Linked DNA regions of Homo sapiens. The gene in region 3 interacts genetically with the main gene of each other region. Each region holds a gene or a part of one and is shown on either strand. Other genes may lie near its edges.

Region 1 (4,775 bases), on a different chromosome or scaffold from region 3:
AATCTCCGTCTCCCGGGTTCAAGCAATTCTCCTGCCTCAGCCTCCCAAATAGCTGGGACTACAGGCGCGTGCCACCGCCCAGCTGATTTTTGTATGTTTAGTAGAGATGGGGCTTCACCATGTTGGCCAGGATGGTCTCGACCTCTTGACCTTGTGATCCACCTGCCTTGGCCTCCCAAAGTGTTGGGATTACAGGAGTTAGCCACCGCACCCAGTCACCTTTTTTTTTTTTTTTTTGAGATGGAGTCTCACTCTGTCGCCCAGGCTGGAGTGCACTGGCGCGATCTCGGCTCACTGCAACCTCTGCCTCCTGGGTTCAAGGGATGCTCCTGCCTCAGCCTCCAAAGTAGCTGGGATTACAGGTGTCCGCCACCACGCCTGGCTAATTTTTGTATTTTTAGTAGAGACGGGATTTCACCATGTTGGCCAGGCTGGTCTCGATCTCCTGTCCACTCCGAAATGTAAGTTCCATGAAGGCAGAGATTTTTTGGTCTGTTTTGTTCACTGCTCTTCTCCCTCAGTATCTAGAAAGGTATCTGGTACACAAGAGCCAAGAGTATCTGCTGATTTTCTCTTGAAGCTCAGTGGTTTGGGGCCTTTGTTAGCTGCTCATGAGGGATGGGCAGCAGCTTCCTCTGCAGCACGTAGCTTAAACCATTTGCCTGTGGTTAAAAGGAGTTTGGCTGGGCGCGGTGGCTCACACCTGTAATTCCAGCACTTTGGGAGGCTGAGGCGGTGGATCACGAGGTCAGGAGTTCGAGACCAGCCTGGCCAAGATAGTGAAACCCTGTGTCTACTAAAACTACAAAAAATTAGCTGGGCGTGGTGGCAGGTGCCTGTAATCCCAGCTACTTGGGAGGCTGAGGCAGAGAAATGCTTGAACCCGGGAGGAGGAGGCTGCAGTGAGCCGAGATTGTGCCACTGCATTCCAGCCTGGGCGAAAGGGCGAGATTCCAACTCAAAAAAAAAAAAAAAAAAAAAAAAGAGTTCACCTGTGAATCCCAAATCTTTCCCCAGTGGAACAACAGAAAGCCAGTGATGGCGAAACTCAAGTGGGGAACGAAGTGTAAGGGGTATCTGTAGATGGTGATATAAACATGCAGCTTGCAAATACAGAATACAGAGATGGGGCGTTTTCTGTATATCTAGGTGAAGTTTCAATATGGTATAATAATGTCCTTTATATTAGAGGTGTTAAAGAGGAAGATGGGGAAATGAGAGATTAAGAGAATAGCATCTTTTGGGCTGGGCATGGCGGCTCACACCTGTAATCCAAGCACTTTGGGAGGCCAGGATTGCCTGAGCCCAGGAGTTTGAGACCAGCCTGGGCAACACAGTGAGACCCTGTCTCTATAAAAAATACAAAAATTAGCCAGGCATGGTGATGCATGTTTGTGGTCCTAGCTTCCTGGGAGGCTGAGGTGGGAGAATCACTTGAGCCTGGGAGGCAGAGGCTACAGTGAGCTGTGCTCCTGCCACTGTACTCCAGCCTGGACAACAGAGACTGACCCTGACTCAAAAATAAAAAAAAAAGAGAGCAGCATCTTTTGTGGGTTTAAAAACAATTTACATGTGTGTGTATGTGTGTCCAGATTAGTTTGTTTCAGGCCTATAATCCCAGCACTTTGGGAGGCTGAGGCGGGTAGATCACTTGAGGTCAGGAGTTCGAGACCAGCCTGGCCAATGTAGCAAAACCCCGTCTCTACTAAAAATACAAACATTAGCTTGGCATGGTGGCATGCACCCGTAGTCCCAGCTACTTGGGAGCCTGAGGCAGGAGAATTGCTTGAACCCGGGAGGTGGAGGTTGCAGTGATCCGAGATCGCACCACTGCACTCCAGTCTGGGTGGCAGAGCAAGACTACATCTCAAACAAACAAACAAAAAAACTGCTGAGTGAATAATTCCATTCATGAATGAGCATCCTTTGGAGACAGATGTTTGAAGGACTTATGAGATGACAGTCAAAAGTGTCAAGTTGTACTGTAGTTGCCTGTGTGTAGAGCATGTACATACAAATGTGACAAAATGTTAAAAATTAATAAAATCAGGTGAAGTGTGTGCAAGTATAACCTTTGTGTGTGTGTGTGTGTGTGTGTGTGTGTGTGAGAGAGAGACAGAATCTCACTCTGTCACCTAGGCTGGAGTACAGTGGCATGATCATGGCTCACCACAGCCTCGACCTGCTGGGCTCAAACGATCCTCCCACCTCCTATTTTTTGTAGAGGTGTGGTCCCACTGTGTTACCCAGGTTGGTCTGGTCTGAAACTCCCGAGCAAGTGATCCTCCTGCCTCGGCCTCCCAAAGTGTTGGGATTACAGGTGCCACTGTGCCCAGCCATAACCTCACCTCTTCTTGAGCTTTAAAATGGTTCAGGTCAGGCGCAGTGGCTCACGCCTGTAATCCAAGCACTTTGGGAGGCCGAGACGGGCAGATCGCAAGGTCAGGAGATGGAGACCATCCTGGCTAAAATGGTGAAACCCTGTCTCTACTAAAAATACAAAAAAATTAGCCAGGCGTGATGGTGGGCACCTGTAGTCCCAGCTACTCGGGAGGCTGAGGCAGGAGAATGGCATGAACCCAGGAGGCGGAGCTTGCAGTAAGTCGAGATTGTGCCACTGCACTCCAGCCTGGGTGACAGAGCGAGACTCCGTCTCAAAAAAAAAAAAAGGTTCAAAGGGGTGGGCACAGTGGCTCATGCCTGCAATCCTAGCACTTTGGAGGCCAAGGAGAGAGGATTGCTTGAGGCCAGGAGTTTGAGACCAACCTGGCCAATATATTAAGACCCCATCTCAAAATTTGAAATTTCTGCTGGGCGTGGTGGCTCACACCTGTAATCCCAGCACTTTGGGAGGTCAAGGCGGGTGGATCACCTGAGGTCAGGAGTTCAAGACCAGCCCGGCCAACATGGTGAAACCCCCATCTCTACTACAAATACAAAAATTAGCCGGGTGTGGTGGTGCACGCCTGTTATCCCAGCTACTCAGGAGGCTGAGGCAGGAGAATCGCTTGAACCCAGGAGGTGGAGGTTGCAGTGAGCCGAGATCATGCCACTGCATTCCAGTCTGGGTGAAAACAGTGTGCCTCCGCCTCAAAAAAAAAAAAAAAAAAGAAAGAAAGAAAGAAAGAAAAAGCCAGGTGCAGTGGCTCACGCCTGTAATCCCACTACTTTGGGAGGCTGAGGCAGGCGGATCACCTAAGGTCGGGAGTTCAAGACCAGCCTGACCAACATGTAGAAACCCTGCCTCTACTAAAAATACAAAATTAGCCGGGCGTGATGGCGCATGCCTGTAATCCCAGCTACTTGGGAGGCTGAGGCAGGAGAACTGCTTGAACCTGGGAGGCAGAGGTTGCAGTGAGAAGAGATTGTGCCACTGCACTCCAGCCTGGGCAACAAGAGCAAAACTCCGTCAAAAAAAAAAAATTGAAATTTTTTAATTTAAAAATGTTTTTTAAAATAAATTGGTTCAAAATAAAAAGGTGGCATAAGAACGTGGTCCTGCAGAAGTCTCCCTTGGACCATCCTAGTTAAGCTGCACTCTCTGTCCTACCTCTCTGCCTGTCCTCCTAGCATTTATACGGATCCCCACTTGGATCTCTGCTGCAGTAGGGTCCTTGTTGGTCCTGCTCGCTGTGGTATTTTTACTGTACTGTGTTTTACTGTAGTTACATTTTTATTGTCAGTGCCTGACAAACAGCAGGCTTGCAATCCTTTTAGAATGGACACAGATGACTGATGGGCAGCTCTTTGGCCCCCTTTTTTCTTTTCACCCTGAAATTGGTAATAATATCAAGTGTTTCAAAGCATCATATCATATGAGGTTTTACAGAATGAGAACTTCACACTTTTCTGGCATTTGCATAAGGAACGGTCACTTTGTACTTGAAGGAGGTCACATGAGAACAGTAGCCCCACAGATCAGACTAAGGACAGTCGGGGAGACTGGAAGAGCCAAAGTTCACCTCAGGATAAAATTACATATGAAAATGGCTTGTTATGTGCCAGAGGTTGCTTGATATGCTAAAATATGCTCCAAGTGCAAGCCACAAACCACCATGTCCCACAAAAGCATCATGGAGCCTGTGCCCCAGAACCCAGTTCCGTGCAGCACTCACATGCGGGGACCTCTCTCAGAAGAAAACTCGCAGTGAAACACAACAATGACACGCTTGCCATCAGTAGGTACAATGGGCTTCTTCAATAAGAAGTCTTCAACCTCTTCTTCCATGTGCAAGTTCACTGCACCCTGTGAAGACAACAGAGACCCTTGGAACCTGCACGTTTCACACATGAAGTAATGATTCAGCAAGATGTAATGATTCATCAAGAGTGATCTTTAAGTCCACAAGACCAGTTTGTGATTTTTGCAGTTCTTCTAGCTGAATAGCCCAGTAGACCATTTGGCACCTGTATCTCAATGGAGCTTTGTGGGTCCGTACACGTTCATCATACAGTAATGCACATGGGGACTGGAAATGGGCAATTCAAATATGACAATGGTACACTTTATAGGTAGTTTTATAAATTTGGGGATTTTCAAAAGCCACAAGACAATGGCAAACAGTAACATCGTATTTAAAGTACCTCCTTACTATATTTAAACACTATTAATCGGGTAAAACATTAAAATGGCAGGCCAGGCGCCGTGGCTCATGCCTGTAATCCTAGCACTTTGGGAGGCTGAGGCGGGCGGTTTGCCTGAGCTCAGGAGTTTGAGACCAGCCCGGGCAACATGGTGAAACCCCGTCTCTACTAAAAAAAAAAAAAAATTAGCC
Region 2 (4,826 bases), on a different chromosome or scaffold from region 3:
TGAGGGGCCGTCTTGCTTCCCTTCGGGGTCTCATCCCTCCGACTCCCACCCCGCAAAACCTCCAGTGGGCGTGTGGAAGTGCTTCTAGGGGCTCAGTGTTCCCTGGGGGTCACCCCGTGCTGTCTCTGTGATCCCTAGAAGGTGGGATGGGCCAGAGGGAGGAAGGAGGGCCCGAGTTCCAGGTCCATCTTCATAGACAAGACGCTGGGCCTGCAGAACAGGAGCCGAGGGATGGGCCTTCAGGGGCTGCAGAGGCAGAGGTCACGTGGGGCTGGAGAGGGCGCTGGGAGTCGAGTCCACCCCTTGTGAGGACAGAGGTCATTTGCAGAGATTGGAGAGACTAAATGCACATCTCTGCATCTGACAGTTGGAAGGAAAGAGTGAATGTTTCTTTAGAGAGTTGTTTTCAACCAGAACAGCCCCGCATTTCATTCCTGGGTGTAATCATGTTCAAATAAAAAATGCAAACAAGAGCCCGGGATAAAATGCAACACTCGCCAGACGCAGAGGGCTCACCTATTGATGTAGAGAAAGACCTCAAAATGAATTTGAAAATGTCAAACTCAGGCCGGGTGCGGTGGCTCACGCCTGTCATCCCAGCACTTTGGGAGGCCGAGGCGGGCGGATCACTTGAGGTCAGGAGTTCGAGACCAGACTGGCCAACATGGCGAAACCCCATCTCTACTGAAAATACAAAAATTAACTGGGCGTGGTGGCTCACGCCTGTGGCCCAGCTATATGGGAGGCCAAGATGGGAGGATCGCTTGAGCCCAGGAGTTAAGGCTGCAGTGAGCCCTGATCACACCACTGCACTTCAGCCTGGATGACACAGCGAGATCCCGTCTCAAAGCAAACAACTAGGCAAAGCACAAGCAGTGGACAGAGGGGCCGGGAGAAGAGCTCGTGGGAAGCGTGGGGTAGGGGCTCATGATGGGCAGCCCTGGGGCTCCCGGCGACCATTCTCTGTCTTGACCCGGTTGCAGGGACCTGGCTGTCCTTTATAATCAACTGAGTTGCCCGAGTGGCTCTGTGTGACCCGAATGCTGGATGCATCGTGTGGGGAGAAGCCAGCCTCGGGGACCAGGGCTGCCCAGGAGGCCCCGTCCCACGGTGACTGGCTGTGCCTTGAGGGCTAGGACCTCACACTGTGGCAGGTGTCCTCAGCACACCTGGACCCCTTCTCTCCCAGTGACATCCACAACCAGAAACACAGCGATGCACACCAGTGATTTCCATGCACTTTAATGAGGTCCAGCACTCAGGAGGATTAGCGCCCACCACCAGCTATCTGGGCAGGGGAGGGCTGGAGGGCCCGGTGCAGGCGTCAGGCTTAGGACAGGGAAGGGGGCTCAGGATAGGGAAGGGTCCTCAGGACAGGGGAAGGGGCTCAGAAGAGAGCAGGGGGCTTAGGACAGGAAGGGGCACTCAGGACGGGGCAGGGAAGGTGTGGGGGGCAGTCGCCACCTGGGTAGGAAGCAGTGGTGTTTTGGACAGCAGGGGTTGGTCCTCCAGTGACCCAGGTGGCCAACCCAGGCCTGACTCACGGCTTTTTGGGGACATAGTGGTGGATCCAGTCCAAGTAGTAGGTGACACGGGTGTAGATGCCAGGCCGGTTGGGCTGGGCACAGCCCTCGCCCCAGCTGACCACGCCCGCCTGCAGCCAGGTGCCATTCACCTTGCACACCAGGGGCCCTCCGGAGTCGCCCTGGGAAGGTCAGAGGTCAGCGCTCGCCGAACAGGCCTGGGAGTGGGGGTTGGGGGGCGGGGGGCGGGGGACAGGCGGGGCCCACCTGGCATGAGTCCCTCCGGGTGTTCCCGGCACACAGCATGTCGTCACGGACGATGCGGACGTCGTCTCCCGTGTAGGCGCCAAGGTGGTATTTTGCGTCACAAATGTGGTTTTCCATTATGGGGACCTTCACCTGCTTCAGAGGAAATGGCGGTGGGAGGCGCTCTGCAGGTGGGGAAGAGGGTGCAGCCTCAGGAGGGGGCCGGGCAACCCCCACCTGGAGCCCAGAGGGAGCCCAGGGGCTGGGCTGTGGCTAAGACCCTGGCCCCACCTCCACTGTCCCCAGACCCACCATCATTGTCCACATCGCCCCAGCCAGTGACCCAGCACGGCATCCCCGGGGGGAAGGTCTCTGAGGCAGGGGGCAGGGTGACCGTGTGGACGTGGCTGGAGACGTTCACCGGCTCCTCCAGCTCCAGCAGGGCGATGTCCGCTCCGATCTGGGCGGTGTAGAACTGTGGGTGCACGATGATCCTGCTGACCGGCAGCAGCTGGTCCTGGTAGTAGAGGTGCTGCTCCCGCAGTTGCACCCTGAGGGCGGCCAGATCCTTGACGTCCCTGGGCAGCGGAGGATCCCACTCAGGGCCCTGGGCAGCCCCCAGGAGCACCCGGGAGCCAGGGCTCACATCCAGCCCTTCCCCACCCCTCCAGGCCCCGGGAGACTCACGGTCCCACGCAGTGCGCTGCGGTCAGCACCCACTGGGGGTGGATGAGGGAGCCCCCGCAGAAGTGCATCCAGTATGGGCCGTGGACTCTCAGGCTCACCTGCCAGGGCCACTTGCTCCTGGGGGCCTCCTGACCCCCGACGATGCCCACTCGCTGCAGGGCCTGGCCTGGGGCTGGGGCAGGTGCCAGGTCAGGACCAGGAAGCAGCCCCAGGCCTGGGCCCAGCCCTTCCCTGTGTGGGGGCCAGCCCGACCTCCCCAGAACCCACCCAGGCCCTGACCTGTGGAATGTGGTGAGGGGCAGGGTGGACCCCGGCTGGGACTCACCAGGGGCCGCGTAGGCGCGGCTCGCCAGGACGGGCAGCGCCAGCAGCAGCAGATTCAGCATCTGGGGAGCAAGGAGGAGCATCGTGGGCCTGGCCGGGCCTCACAGGGCAGGGCTGGGGGCTACAGATTGTGGGGTGAAGAATGGAGCTGGGACGGGGGGACCGGGGTGGGTCCAGGCCTGCGGGCCTGGGTCTTGGTGCTCTGAGTCTGAGGCTGGGCCACTCTGCTCCAGGTGACGCTGATGTCAGGGTCTCTGAGAGTGGGGACTTACCCTGGCCGCTCCCTGTTCCTTCTACCCAGTGGGCTCTCCCCTCCCCATTTATCCTTCCAGATCAGGAGGGGGCGGAGGAGGGGCGCTGGGTCCTCCCATCCAGACTCGGAGGAAGTGGATGACTCAGACCCAGGGCCCCCGTGTAACACGTGCCCCCGCCACCCCGATGCCCTCTGTGTGTGGGGCTGCCAGGCAGGCCCCGCTGAGGGCTGAGCACTGGAGACTGGCAGCTCCACCTGTCAGCTGGTGGATCCCAGCACTGGAACCCACCACCTTCCCGCTGGTGGGATCTGCTCCTGCCCCTGTCTCGGTGCCAGGAGGCCTTCAGGCATTGCTGCACCCAGGTGGCCTGGCTGCCCCAGGCTACAAGACCCGTCGCTCCTGAAACCTGTTTCCCCAAGAGGGACACGGGTGAGGAACTCATGTCCATGGGCCACGCTCCAAGAGACGGGAAGGTGCCCACGGGGTGGGGACATGACGGGTGACACCCCTCCTACGGACTCCGAATCCACGGGGGTGGGGCCAGCCCTCCTCGACTCACTTGGTTGGGGGCTCACGTGAGACCCCTTTGTCAGATGGGGAAACAGCCTTGAGAGGGGACAGCACCAAGTGTCCTCAGCCAGGAAGGGGCCCTGCTCCCCACCCGCCGTATGAGACCCAAGTCCTCCTACGAGTCCTCAATGTCCACCTCTGGGGCTGTCCGTGCAGGTCCCCTGGTCTGCAGGTGCCTCCTTATCATGGGATCTGAGCTTCATACGCAGAGGGAAGAGCAGAGAGGAGTGCAGGTGCAACCCCAGGAGGCCCAGCCCAGCTCCCCATGGACTCACCCCCAACTTCAGCCCCAGCTCCCCATGGACTAGTCCCAGCCCCAGCCCCAGCTCCCCATGGTCTCATCCCCGGCCCCAGCTCCCTGTGCTCTCCATCCCATTCAGCGCTGACACTGTCCCTGCAGGTCCGTCCACCCCACCTCCCGACTCCCCTGGGCCTGTTGGTCACTGGGGCCTCCAGCCCACCTCCTCCGCTTCTGAGCCCCAGGACCCCCTGCCTGCCCCCCGACCCCCAACACAGGGCCACTCCGGGGCTCCTCCTGCCCCCACCCTGCCTGGGACCAGCCTGGTTTGGGGCTGACTCTGCACTGCGGGGCCATATCCATCTGGACTCCTTCCGGGCTGCACCCCCCGGGGGACAGGCAGGGGTGGCCCAGACCGCTCCTGCTCATGACCCTGCTTCTCCTCCATTCTCTGGACAAACTCCCCAGAGGCCTCCACCTGCCCCGTCCTGGTTCCATGAATGAGGCCCACAAGATGGGACCTTCAGGAGCCCAGGAGGTGAGGGGATGGGGTGACGGGGGACACCAGGGATGAGGGTGTGGCAGGGACACGGGAGACACCAGGGCTGACGGTGAAGAAGAGACTCAGGGGACACCAGGGCTGGGAGAACCCAGGGACACACGGGGACACCGGGGCTGTGGTGTGCAGAGGGCTCTGGGACCCCCGAGTCAGGGGCTCTGGGGCCGCTCCTCCTAGGAATGCTCCGATTGGGTCAGGCCTGGGAGGCGGACCAATCAGCACCATGGGGATGCGAGAGCTTTGATTGGCTAACACTGGGCCAATCAGGGCGCGTCCTGGGCACCCCGCCCCGATCCCCGGCCGCTCCCCTGGGGCTGCTGCAGGGCTGGGGTCCCAGGGGAGGTGGATGGACCTGTGCGGCCCTGCCCCGGCGCCTCTCAGGAAGCCCCGCATCCTATCTCTGCCGTCCCGCAGCAAAAAGCTGA
Region 3 (5,136 bases):
AAAAACAAAAAAAAACCAGGTTCAAGGTGAAAAGGATTAAGTGTTCCTTGAGACGTGTCAGCCAGCATTCAGACGATCTAGCCAAGGTCACTGCTGGAGGTGGCTTTTCAGGGTAGAAGAAACAGCCTTCTGGAAGAAGATGCCACCCAGGACTTTCCTCGTGTGGAAGAAGCGGTTCCCTGGCTTCCAAGGAGAGGCCCACCCTCTTCACCCTCTTGTTAGGGGCTAACGCAGCTGGTGACTTGAAGGTGATGCCAGGGCTTTTTACCATTCCACAAATCCTAGGGCCCACGAGAATTATGCTAAATCTACTCTGTGCTCTATAAATAGAACAACAGAGCCTGGGTGACAGCACATCTGTTTAACACCTGGCTTATGGAATATTTGAAGCCCACTTTTGAGACCTATTGTTCAGAAAAAAGTTTTTGTTTTTTTGTTTTTTTTTTTGAGACTGATTCTCGCTCGTCACCCAGGCTGGAGTGCAGTGGTGCCATCTCGGTTCACTGCAAGCTCCCCCTCCCGGGTTCACCCCATTCTCCTGCCTCAGCTTCCCGAGTAGCTGGGACTACAGGAGCCCACGACCATGCCCAGCTAATGTTTTTGTAATTTTAGTAGAAACGGGGTTTCAGCGTATTAGCCAGGATGGTCTCGATCTCCTGACTTCATGATCCGCCTGCCTCGGCCTCCCAAACTGCTGGGATTACAGGTGTGAGCCACCGCGCCTGGCCAAAAAGATTTCTTTCAAAATATGACTGCTCACTGACAACGCACCTGGTCACCCAAGATCCCTAGTGGAGACGTACACGATCAGTTTCCGGCCGGGCGCGGTGGCTCACACCTGTGATCCCAGCACTTCGGGAGGCCAAGGCGGGCAGATCACGAGGTCAGGAGATCGAGACCACAGTGAAACCGCGTCTCTACTAAAAATACAAAAAATTAACCGGCCGTGGTGGCGGGCGCCTTTAGTCCCAGCTACTCAGGAGGCTGAGGCAGGAGAATGGCATGAACCCAGGAGGCGGAGGTTGCAGTGAGCCGAGATTGTGCCACTGCACTCCAGCCTGGGCGACAGAGCGAGACTCCGTTTCCAAAAAAAAAAAAAAGATCATTGTTTCCATCCCTGCTAGCACAACATCCAGCCTGTAGCCTGTGGATCAATGAATGAATGAATGACTCGGAAATCAAGATGACTCCTTGACATGTCATTCATTCATTTATTTATGCATGACAAGGTGTCCCACTGTCACCCAGGCTGGAGTGCAGTAGCACGATCTTGGCTCACTGCATCCTCCACCTCCCGGGTTGAAGCAATTGTCTTTCCTCAGCCTCCTGAGTAGCTGGGGCTACAGGTGCGTGCCACCATGCCCAGCTAATTTTTATATTTTTTCATAGGGGGTTTCACCATGTTCCTCAGGCTGGTCTTGAACTCCTGAGCTCAAAGCAGTCTGCCCGCCTCAGCCTCCCAAAGTGCTGGGACTACAGGCCTGAGCCACTGTGCCTGGCCAAGTCTTAGTGTTTTTGAGGCACGGTCTCACTGTGTCTCCCAGGCTGCAGTGGAGAAGCAGAATCACAGCTCACTTTAGCCTCCACCTCCCAGGCTCAAGCGATCCTCTCACCTCAGTCTCCTAAGTAGCTAGGACCACAGGTGCGCACCGCCATGACTGGCTAATTTTGTTTTTATTTTTGTAAAGATAGGGTCTCCCTGTGTTGCCCAGGCTGGTCTTGAACTCCCGGCCTCAAGCAGTCTGCCTGCGTCAGCCTCCCAAAGTGTCGGGGTTACAGGCAGGAGCCACCGCAGCCGCCCATGACTCTCATTATTGAGAAATACATTTGTAAGGCTCTAGGTGCCTGTAGGTGCCGTGGAGAGCAATTCCTCTGATGGAGCTGGGGAAATTGGGTAAATTGAAACCCCCGGAAAGGCTTTGCCGTTCTAGAGGCTGTGAAGGACACGCGTGATCCATGGGAGGAGGTAACATGTCAGGATGAGCGGAAGTTTGGAAGAAGTTGGTCCCAGGCCTGAAAGATCACTGTGAGGGTTCAGGACTTCAGTGGAGGAGGGACTGTAGAGGTTTTAGAAGCAGCAAGAGAACTAGAATGAGAAGGACTTGGAGATGTGACTGCATTGTCGCTGTCTCGCGAGAAAACTTTAACACGTGAGGAGTTGCCTCTGAAGGGTGAGCAGGGGAGTTGCTTCAGTTGCGCTCTAGTCCCAGTGAAGATTCTGTGAACCTGGGGGTAATGAGGACAAAGAACTTGGAACAGCCCGGAACCTCGGTTGATGAAGCCGCGGCCGGGTTGAGAGGACCGACTGCAGTTCTGAAAGACGTTCTGCTGTGGGTAATCAATGCTATCAGACAGCATCACGCCCCACAGAGAAATCTTTCATGAAAGGAAGAGTCCATCGCTGTGGCCAACTTTTTTGTGGTCATAGTTTAAGAAGTTGCCCCAGCCTCCAGCAGCCACCGCCCCAACGAGTCAGCCGCCGTCCACATTGAGGCAAGACCCTTCTCCGGGGAGATTAGGGCCACTCCCGGTTCCCATGATCATTACCATTGCTTAGCAGTAAAGTATTTTTATTTCTTTATTATTTATTTAAGATGGGGTCTTGCTGTATCCCCCAGGCTGGAGTGCAGTGGTGCGATCATAGCTCACTGCAGCCTCCGCCTCCTGGGCTCAAACGATCCTCCCGCCTCAGTCTCCCGAGTAGCTGGGACCACAGGCTTGCACACCACGCCCCGCTTAATTAAAGTGTGTCCTTTGATTAGACACAACGCTACTGCACACTTCCTAGACCACGGTATACTGTGAACGTAACTTGTGTGTGCACTGGGAAACCAGAACATTCGAGCGGCTGTTGCCGTGCGGAACCCAAGGCCTGTGATCCCCACAGGGTGTTTCTGGCACCGGAACGCAGGGGCCACATCCAGGGGGGCAGTGCTTGTGACGCCGGTGCCTTCGTTTCTGATGTGGCTTACTCAGCTGGGAGTTCCTGTCCTAACATTTTCGGCGATGGCTGTGCACCCACGGCCCCTCTTCACCCGCGGCCCCTACGTCCTGCCGGTTGGCAGGAAACCTCTTCCCCTGCACATCTGGGGCACAGCAGCAAACTGTGGTCCCCCTTCTTCAGTGAGGGTGGGGCTTCTGTCTGTCTGGAGCCCTAGAATGGGGCCAGGGGTGGCTGGGGCCTGGGTCAGGGAGGACCCGGCAGGATCTGTGCAGACAGGCAGGTGGCTGCGGTGGCTCCCGGTGCAGGGTTCTTGGCCTCCTGGGCGGGTACCTGGCTTGAGGGCGACGAGGTGACAGCCGCGTCCCTGGGGTTGCACCACCCGAGCGTCCAGTTAACACCACAGCTGCCACCCTTCAGTTCTGCAGGTGGGGCTCCTCCCTCCTCCCCAGGCTGCCCCCACCACCCTTCAGTTCTGCAGGTGGGGCTCCTCCTTCCTCCCTCCTCCCCAGGCTGCCCCCGACCACCCTTCAGTTCTGCAGGTGGGGCTCCTCCTTCCTCCCTCCTCCCCAGGCTGCCCCCGACCACCCTTCAGTTCTGCAGGTGGGGCTCCTCCCTCCTCCCTTCTCCCCAGGCTGCCCCCGACCACCCTTCAGTTCTGCAGGTGGGGCTCCTCCCTCCTCCCTTCTCCCCAGGCTGCCCCCGACCACCCTTCAGTTCTGCAGGTGGGGCTCCTCCCTCCTCCCCAGGCTGCCCCCGACCACCCTTCAGTTCTGCAGGTGGGGGCTCCTCCCTCCTCCCCAGGCTGCCCCCACCACCCTTCAGTTCTGCAGGTGGGGCTCCTCCCTCCTCCCTCCTCCCCAGGCTGCCCCCGACCACCCTTCAGTTCTGCAGGTGGGGCTCCTCCCCAGGCTGTCCCTGACCACCCTTCAGTTCTGCAGGTGGGGCTCCTCCCTCCTCCCTCCTCCCCAGGCTGCCCCAGACCACCCTTCAGTTCTGCAGGTGGGGCTCCTCCCTCCTCCCCAGGCTGCCCCCGACCACCCTTCAGTTCTGCAGGTGGGGGCTCCTCCCTCCTCCCCAGGCTGCCCCTGACCACCCTTCAGTTCTGCAGGTGGGGCTCCTCCCTCCTCCCTCCTCCCCAGGCTGTCCCGAGGCTCCTTGCTGGGGACCGTCCTGCCTCCCGTCGGGGCCTGCGCTGAGACTGGGCTCCATGCCAGCCGGGGCTGGCTGGCCCCCTCGCTCCAGAGAGCGACCTGCACAGAGTCCCCTCAGCCATGAGCCCCTGTCCAGACACGGCGTTTCTCTGTGGGTGGCAACAGGCTCTGGGGCCCTCAGCTCTGGGCTCGGGAGCATTTAAGGTGGTGCAGACTCAGCGAGGGGCTGTGGGCTGGGGTCCCACCATCCCGGGAGCAGGGACTGCGTGTTCCTTCTCAGGACCAGAGGCTTCTGTCTTTTCCCCTGGGGTAGAAGTTTGCTGCCTGCCCCGTGCCCAGCCTTGCTTAGGTGGCTGTTGGCTCCGCTGGTCCCTCAAGCCCCGCCATTCCCTCCTCAGCTCCGCTCTGCACCGAAGGGGATGGGTCCGACCCAGCCTGGCATCATCACAGCCTCGAGTGGCGTCCAGCCTGCCCCGCTCCACCAGTGGCTGCTGGAGAAGAACCCGAGCCTGGGTCAGGCCCTGGGGGCTCCTGCATCAGTGCCCGGCTCTCCGGGGCCTCCTGCCCTCCGGCCCACTCTCCCCGCTCTCAGCATCAACCAGTCGCCATGGGCAGGGGCAGCTCGGTGGCTCCTGTGTCCCTGCCTCGGGCCTGCCTGCTGTCATCTGCCTCCCTCCCTCTTTCCCAGAGCGGCCCTGGGCCTGGATACGGGGACTGTTGTGTGGCCCCTCTGTGTCTGGGGGTGCGACTGCTCCCCTGGCTTCAGGATCCTCAGGGCTTCTACCCGGGATTGGCAGTCATGCTCTCCTGGCAGTACACTCTCCCACCTGTGCCACCCACCCACCCACCCACCCATCCCGCTTTACAGAAAGCCCCCTGAGCCCTACCCTGTTCGTCCCCAGGCAGCCACGCCGAGATCTCTGGCCTCTGATGTCATGTGATGTGTGCTTCCCAGCTGGGTTCCGGGCAGGGACGGTGCTCATCATGCCCCGGCCTTCAGAGCTCCTTCCAGCCCAGCAGTCTCCTGGCTGTGTCCTCTGT

What was found.
Region 1: changes in CSNK1G2 (region 3) and CDC25A together harm fitness more than expected from each alone (negative genetic interaction), as found in Homo sapiens cells (one large-scale study listed by BioGRID).
Region 2: changes in CSNK1G2 (region 3) and TPSAB1 together harm fitness more than expected from each alone (negative genetic interaction), as found in Homo sapiens cells (one large-scale study listed by BioGRID).

What each region holds. Positions count from the first base shown.
Region 1 is NC_000003.12:48,160,192-48,164,966, forward strand, and holds part of CDC25A (M-phase inducer phosphatase 1), read right to left. Parts: intron 4,247-4,775; coding exon 4,116-4,246; intron 1-4,115. UniProt on the Homo sapiens protein: Tyrosine protein phosphatase which functions as a dosage-dependent inducer of mitotic progression. Directly dephosphorylates CDK1 and stimulates its kinase activity. Also dephosphorylates CDK2 in complex with cyclin-E, in vitro.
Region 2 is NC_000016.10:1,238,955-1,243,780, reverse strand, and holds TPSAB1 (tryptase alpha/beta-1 precursor), read right to left. Parts: upstream 3,077-4,826; 5' UTR 3,053-3,076; intron 2,843-3,052; coding exon 2,782-2,842; intron 2,629-2,781; coding exon 2,457-2,628; intron 2,348-2,456; coding exon 2,082-2,347; intron 1,955-2,081; coding exon 1,791-1,954; intron 1,706-1,790; coding exon 1,541-1,705; 3' UTR 1,227-1,540; downstream 1-1,226. UniProt on the Homo sapiens protein: Tryptase is the major neutral protease present in mast cells and is secreted upon the coupled activation-degranulation response of this cell type. May play a role in innate immunity.
Region 3 is NC_000019.10:1,964,298-1,969,433, forward strand, and holds part of CSNK1G2 (casein kinase I), read left to right. Parts: intron 1-4,493; exon of another isoform or gene 4,494-4,608; intron 4,609-5,136. UniProt on the Homo sapiens protein: Serine/threonine-protein kinase. Casein kinases are operationally defined by their preferential utilization of acidic proteins such as caseins as substrates. It can phosphorylate a large number of proteins. Participates in Wnt signaling.